Regions from separate parts of the Homo sapiens genome. Here region 2 is linked to region 1. A link means that fine-mapping ties the variant in region 1 to the expression of a gene that starts in the linked region. Tissue or cell type: whole blood. Region 1 holds a variant in brackets; the other region holds the start of a gene. All regions are shown on one strand. Distances are from middle to middle.

What was found. PIP is the estimated chance that this variant, and not a neighbour inherited with it, causes the effect.
Region 2: UBA2 starts here. The variant in region 1 is fine-mapped to the expression of UBA2 in whole blood (INTERVAL, PIP 0.98).

The regions. Positions count from the first base shown.
Region 1 is chr19:33,774,380-33,776,965 of GRCh38, forward strand. No RefSeq gene overlaps it. Among named protein-coding and RNA genes, the nearest start is that of KCTD15, 21 kb to the right of the region's middle. The variant G/C (reference allele first, on the strand shown) is at 1,153.
Region 2 is chr19:34,426,964-34,429,549 of GRCh38, forward strand. It overlaps UBA2 (ubiquitin like modifier activating enzyme 2), which reads left to right and starts at 1,418. Exons shown (of 17, transcript NM_005499.3): 1 at 1,418-1,607. The coding sequence starts at 1,470. It overlaps LOC124904695 (a long non-coding RNA gene), which reads right to left and starts at 1,401. Exons shown (of 2, transcript XR_007067232.1): 1 at 1,159-1,401. RefSeq lists silencers at 1,306-1,545, 1,576-1,685, 1,756-1,915.

The DNA.
Region 1 (2,586 bases):
TGTGGGCCCTCCCAGGAGGCTGCCCTCTGTCTGTCCCTATTTGCTAGGGGAGATGCTGCTGATTCTCCACGTGGAGGTGCCACTGGATCCCTGGGTGGACCCCCAGGTGGAGGCCCTGCTGATTCCCAGGTGGAGAAACTGCCGGATCCCCAGGTGGAGGAACTGCTGGATCCCCAGATAGAGGAACTGCTGGATCTCCAGGTAGAGGAACTGCTGGATCCCCAGATGGAGGAAATGCTGGATCCCCAAGTGGAGGAATTGCTGATCCCCAGGTGGAGGAGCTGCTGGATCCTCAGTTGGAGGCGCTCCTGTATTACTAGTTGGAGGTGCTTCTGGAATCTCCCCAGGCTCACACCAGCCTGAGCTGCTCCATCTCCTTTTCTGCCTCCATCTTGGACCCTGGAACATTGCAAAGGGGAACAAGGCACTGAGCCTTCCTCCTGCCCCTTTGGGGTAACATCCATCCAGGAGATCTGAGAAGCAGGGAGACCTCCCTCGGGTTCCAGCTGGAAGCGGCTTGGACCATCCAACAGAAGTGACCCAGAGGGGCAGGGAAGAGGCTGTGGTCAGGGCCTGGGGAACTCTTGGGACCCGTGGAAGCTGAGACAGCAGATGCTGAGGGGCCCAGAAAGCCAGAGTAGCTGCCCTGCACCTTGGCCAGGACCAGGGTCCATGTGAGAGGAGACAGGGAAGTGCCTGGCTGAGGACAACCTAAAAAGAGGTGCCCTGGGTCCCGGTGCTCAAACGTGAGACCACGTTCATGTGCAGGAAAGTGTCCCTGGTCATGGGTGCATTTGGTGAAGCCAGAGGCAGTGCCCCTATGGCATCTGCTCAGCAGGGAACACCTGAACTCTCCGCTGACACAGCATCTGGGAGCAGCTTGGAGACAGTGAGGATGACACAGCCCCTCCCCTGGGTGAGCGTGTGTGTGCGTCTGCATGTGTGTGTCGGGGGAGAAGGCACATGCACTTGTATCATCTCTCAGAGAAACGCCGGCTCAAGCTGGACAGACGTGGACACACAACGCATCCATCAGTGGGGGGCTTTTGTTGCAGGTGGTGATGACAGAAGACAGGTGCAGGCAGTGACCATGATCACCACTTGACAGCCCTGAGAGTGACCTCCAACTGAAGGCCAGAGGCCCAGCCTGGA[G/C]ACCAACCCAGCTCCAACCCCCAACCCCAGCCCCAAACCTCACAGGGCTCAGGAAGAGCCGACTCAGTGCAGTGGTAGGGAAGTATGTGTGTGTGCACGTGTGCATGTGTCTGTGTGTGTGTCTGGGTGTCTGTGTGGGTGTCTGGCCTGTGCTGTGGGGTGGGTGGATGTGAGCGCGTATATGTCTATGTGTGTGTCTGGCCTATACTCTCCACATGTGTGTTTGTGAGTGTGTGTGTTTGGCCTGTACTGTGGGTGGGTGTGAGCATATGGATCATGTGGGTGGGTGTGTTTGTGTGGATGTCTGGCCTGTGCTGTGGGATAAACGGGTGTGAGCATGTGGGTGTGTGTGTCTGGCCTGTGATGTGGGGTGGGTGGGTATGAGCGTGTGTGTGTGTGTCTGTGTCTATGTCTGTGTGTGTGTGTGTGTTTCTGCCCTGTGCTGTAGGGTGGGTGGGTGTGAACGTGTGTGTGTGTCTCTGGCCTGTGCTGTGGGGTGGGTGTGAGCATGTGTGTGTTTGTGTCTGTGTGTGTCTCTGTGTGTATGTCTGGCCTGTGCTGTGGGGTGGGTGGGTGTAAGTGTATGTCTGTATGTGTGTTTCTGTGTGTGTCTGGCCTGTACAGTGTGAGTGTATGTTTGGCCTGTATCATGTGGATGGGAGTGAGCATACAGGTAATGTGGGTCTGTGTGTCTGCGTGGGTGTGTGTCTGTGTGGGTGTCTGGCCTGTGCTGTGGGCTAAATGGGTAATGAGTATGTGGGTGTGTGTGGGGGGAGGGAGGTATCTGGCCTGTGCTGTGGGGTGGGTGTGAGCGTGTGTGTGTGTGTGTGTTTCTAGCCTGTGCTATGGGGTCAGTGGGAGCGTGTGTGTCTGTGTGTGTGTGTTCCTGGAGTGAGGGGTGTGCATTGTGTGTGAGCCCGCGTCCATGCCGGGTGTGGGCTGTGTGCAGTCTGAGTCCTGCCCGTCTCCAGGACCATCTCGTGCACCTGCTCCTCGTCTCTCCCTGCCCATTCGCTGGCCATTTTGTGGATGTCACCTGGAAGGGGCCAACTGATCAGAGACCCTAGAAAGGGCCACTGGCAGCTCCCAGGGGCAAAGGAGGCCCATTGAGTTGGGAGAAGAACAGCCCAAGCCCCAGGGCCCTCCCCAGCTTGGTCCCCCTGTGGGCCCCTCCGGGCGGCCCCAGGGAAGTCCCTGCCAGGCCTCTGCCCTTGAGTGGCTGAGACCTCCTGGATGGGAGCCCCACTCTCTGAGTGGTGACGAGAACAGACGTCCCAAAGCCTAGGGTCCCTCCTGGGGCTTGGGAGCCCCAAAGGCCTTGAGTATCCTGGGGAGATAGGATTCAAGGTCCACACAGATGGTCAGGTGGGAAACTCGGGCAGTTCTGGCTCCCCCCAGCTCCCCCTCCTCCCTGCTGTCTCGACAGGGTTTGGT
Region 2 (2,586 bases), 650 kb after region 1:
TTTTCCAATTTTTATTCCCATGATGGCCATCCCTGTAACTAAATTTATATATATTTTAAATCAATGATAACTGCTACAGGACAGTTTCCTAGAATTGGAATGAATGAGTCAAAAGTTGTGCACAATTTTAGGGTTTTTTTTTCTTTTTTTTCGAGACAGGGTCTTGCTCTGTCTCTCAGGCTGGAGTGCAGTGGTAAGGGCATAGCTCACTGCAGCCTCGACCTCTCAGGCTTAAGTGATCCTCCTGCCTCAGCCTCCTGAGTAGCTGGGACTACAGGTGCAAGCCACCACGCCCTCTAGAGAAGCTTTGCTTTGGAATCTTTACCTGGAGTGTGTTGGAGTGCTTGTTTCCCAATCCCTTGATAAGTGTTACTTATTTTTTCTTTCTACCAGTTTAGTAGGTGAAAAACTTTTTTTTTTTTTTGAGACAGAGTCTCGCTGTATTGCTCAGGCTGGAGTGCAGTGGTGCAACCTCCGCCTCCTGGGTTCAAGCAATTCTCCTGCCTCAGCCTCCTGAGTAGCTGGGGCTACAGGCTTGTGCCACCACCCCCAGCTGTTTCGGTGTTTTTTTTTGTTTGTTTGTTTGTTTGTTTTTTTGAGACGGAGTCTGTTGCCCAGGCTGGAGTGCAGTGGCGCGATCTCGGCTCACTGCAACCTCTGCCTCCTGGGTTCAAACGATTCTCCTGCCTCAGCCTCCCGAGTAGCTGGGATTACAGGCGCACGCCACCACGCCCGGCTAATTTTTGTATTTTTAGTAGAGATGGGGGTTTCACCATGTTAGTCAGGCTGGTTTCAGAACTCCTGACCTCGTGATCCACCCGCCTCGGCCTCCCAAAGTGCTGGGATTACAGGCGTAAGCCACCGCGCCCGGCAGGTGAAAATCTTACCATTTTGCATGGTTTACATTTTTTTCTTTTTTGAGACGGAGTCTTGCTCTGTTACCCAGCCTGGAGTGAAGTGGTGCGATCTTGGTTCACTGCAACCTCCACCTCCAGGGTTCAAGCGATTCTTTTATGGTTTACATTTTAATACGCTTATTGATCATATTGTCCAATTTTTTGTGAGTTTCCTGTTCACATCCTTTGCCTATATTTTTTTGGGGGTGACACTTGTTAATTTGTAAGAGCTCTTTACGTATAGGGACATCAGTTTTCTAACCTGTAAGGAAGTCTTGGCTGGGAGTTGAAACCCCAGGCTAGAAGGCGACCCTTAGACTTTTTAGGTCTGATGGCGGGCCTATGCTGGTGTGGGAATAACACCGCCGGTCTCAGCTGGAGGTCGCCAGCCCTTTGCAAGAGCCTGCCGGTCCCCGCGGGCTGCAGCACACCCCGGCGCGATGTGCCCTGCCTGTGTCTGCCGGAGGCTGTAGTGCGCAGGAGCGGAAACCAGGCCGCCCTTCCCCCACCCGCTTCCGGCCGCGGCTCGGTTCTCCCGCCTCCGCCTCCGCCGCGGCTCGTGGTTGTCCCGCCATGGCACTGTCGCGGGGGCTGCCCCGGGAGCTGGCTGAGGCGGTGGCCGGGGGCCGGGTGCTGGTGGTGGGGGCGGGCGGCATCGGCTGCGAGCTCCTCAAGAATCTCGTGCTCACCGGTTTCTCCCACATCGACCTGGTGAGGGCCGGGCGCGCGCGCGTGAATGGCGGGCTGTGGTGCGGGGGCTGGGATTCGGGGGTTCCGGGGCTCCAGGGGCTCTGAGGCTCAGGGCCCGGAGCCCGGGACCGGAGTTGCGGAGCGGGGGCAGGCTGAGAGGCTCGGGTTGTGCCCCCCCCGCGGGAGGAGACTGTTCTTTGGGCACGGGGCGGGCCTCCGCTCGCTGGGCCGGCTCCGGACGCCGAGGAGGCCGCGGGCCCCCGCCTCCCCGGCAGCGCCAATGTGTGGCGCTTCGTGGGCGTGAAGCCGCCTCTTATCCTCCCTTCAAAACAAATTCCCGGCTGTTAGGAGATGCGGGAGAGGATTGAGTCCCTCGCGGATGTTGTGACTTTAATTTTGAGGTCCCTGTCGTAACTCCGAAGTAACGACGCGGGGCGGAGGATGGCAATGATAGCGACCAACGCGTCCCGAGCGCTGGTCACGAGCGGGTTTACACACGGAACGCGCACCATCTTCATACCACCCGAGGAGTGCAAACGCTATTTCCACCCTGCTTTATTTTTAACAGATGAGGAAAGGGAGACGCAATGGGGTTGAGTAACTTACCCTGGGTCACGGAGCGAGTGGCAGGGCTCCCGCAGGCTGCGTGACTGTCATTGCTCTCACAGTAGACGGTACACTCGCTTGTTTCATTAAAGACGTTAGGACTGTGCCTTTTGCATTGGTGTACGTTGACAAGCCAGTGCTATTTTGAATCGTTATTTCTACTAATGCAAACTTTTTAGAGATTGGAGATGTTACTGGCCCTTCGGTGTGAGTTTAAAGTGTCTTAAGGGCTAGTGGAAACATGGAATGAACAAAAAAGTACGGGTGGCCGACTGAGTCATTGTTTCTTTCCTTTATGTATTATATATTTAAGCAAAAATTAGATAAAACTTAAAACATGATACTTTTTTAACCATGTGTAAAAGTTTCCTTTCACAGTTCTCAGGTTAATAGT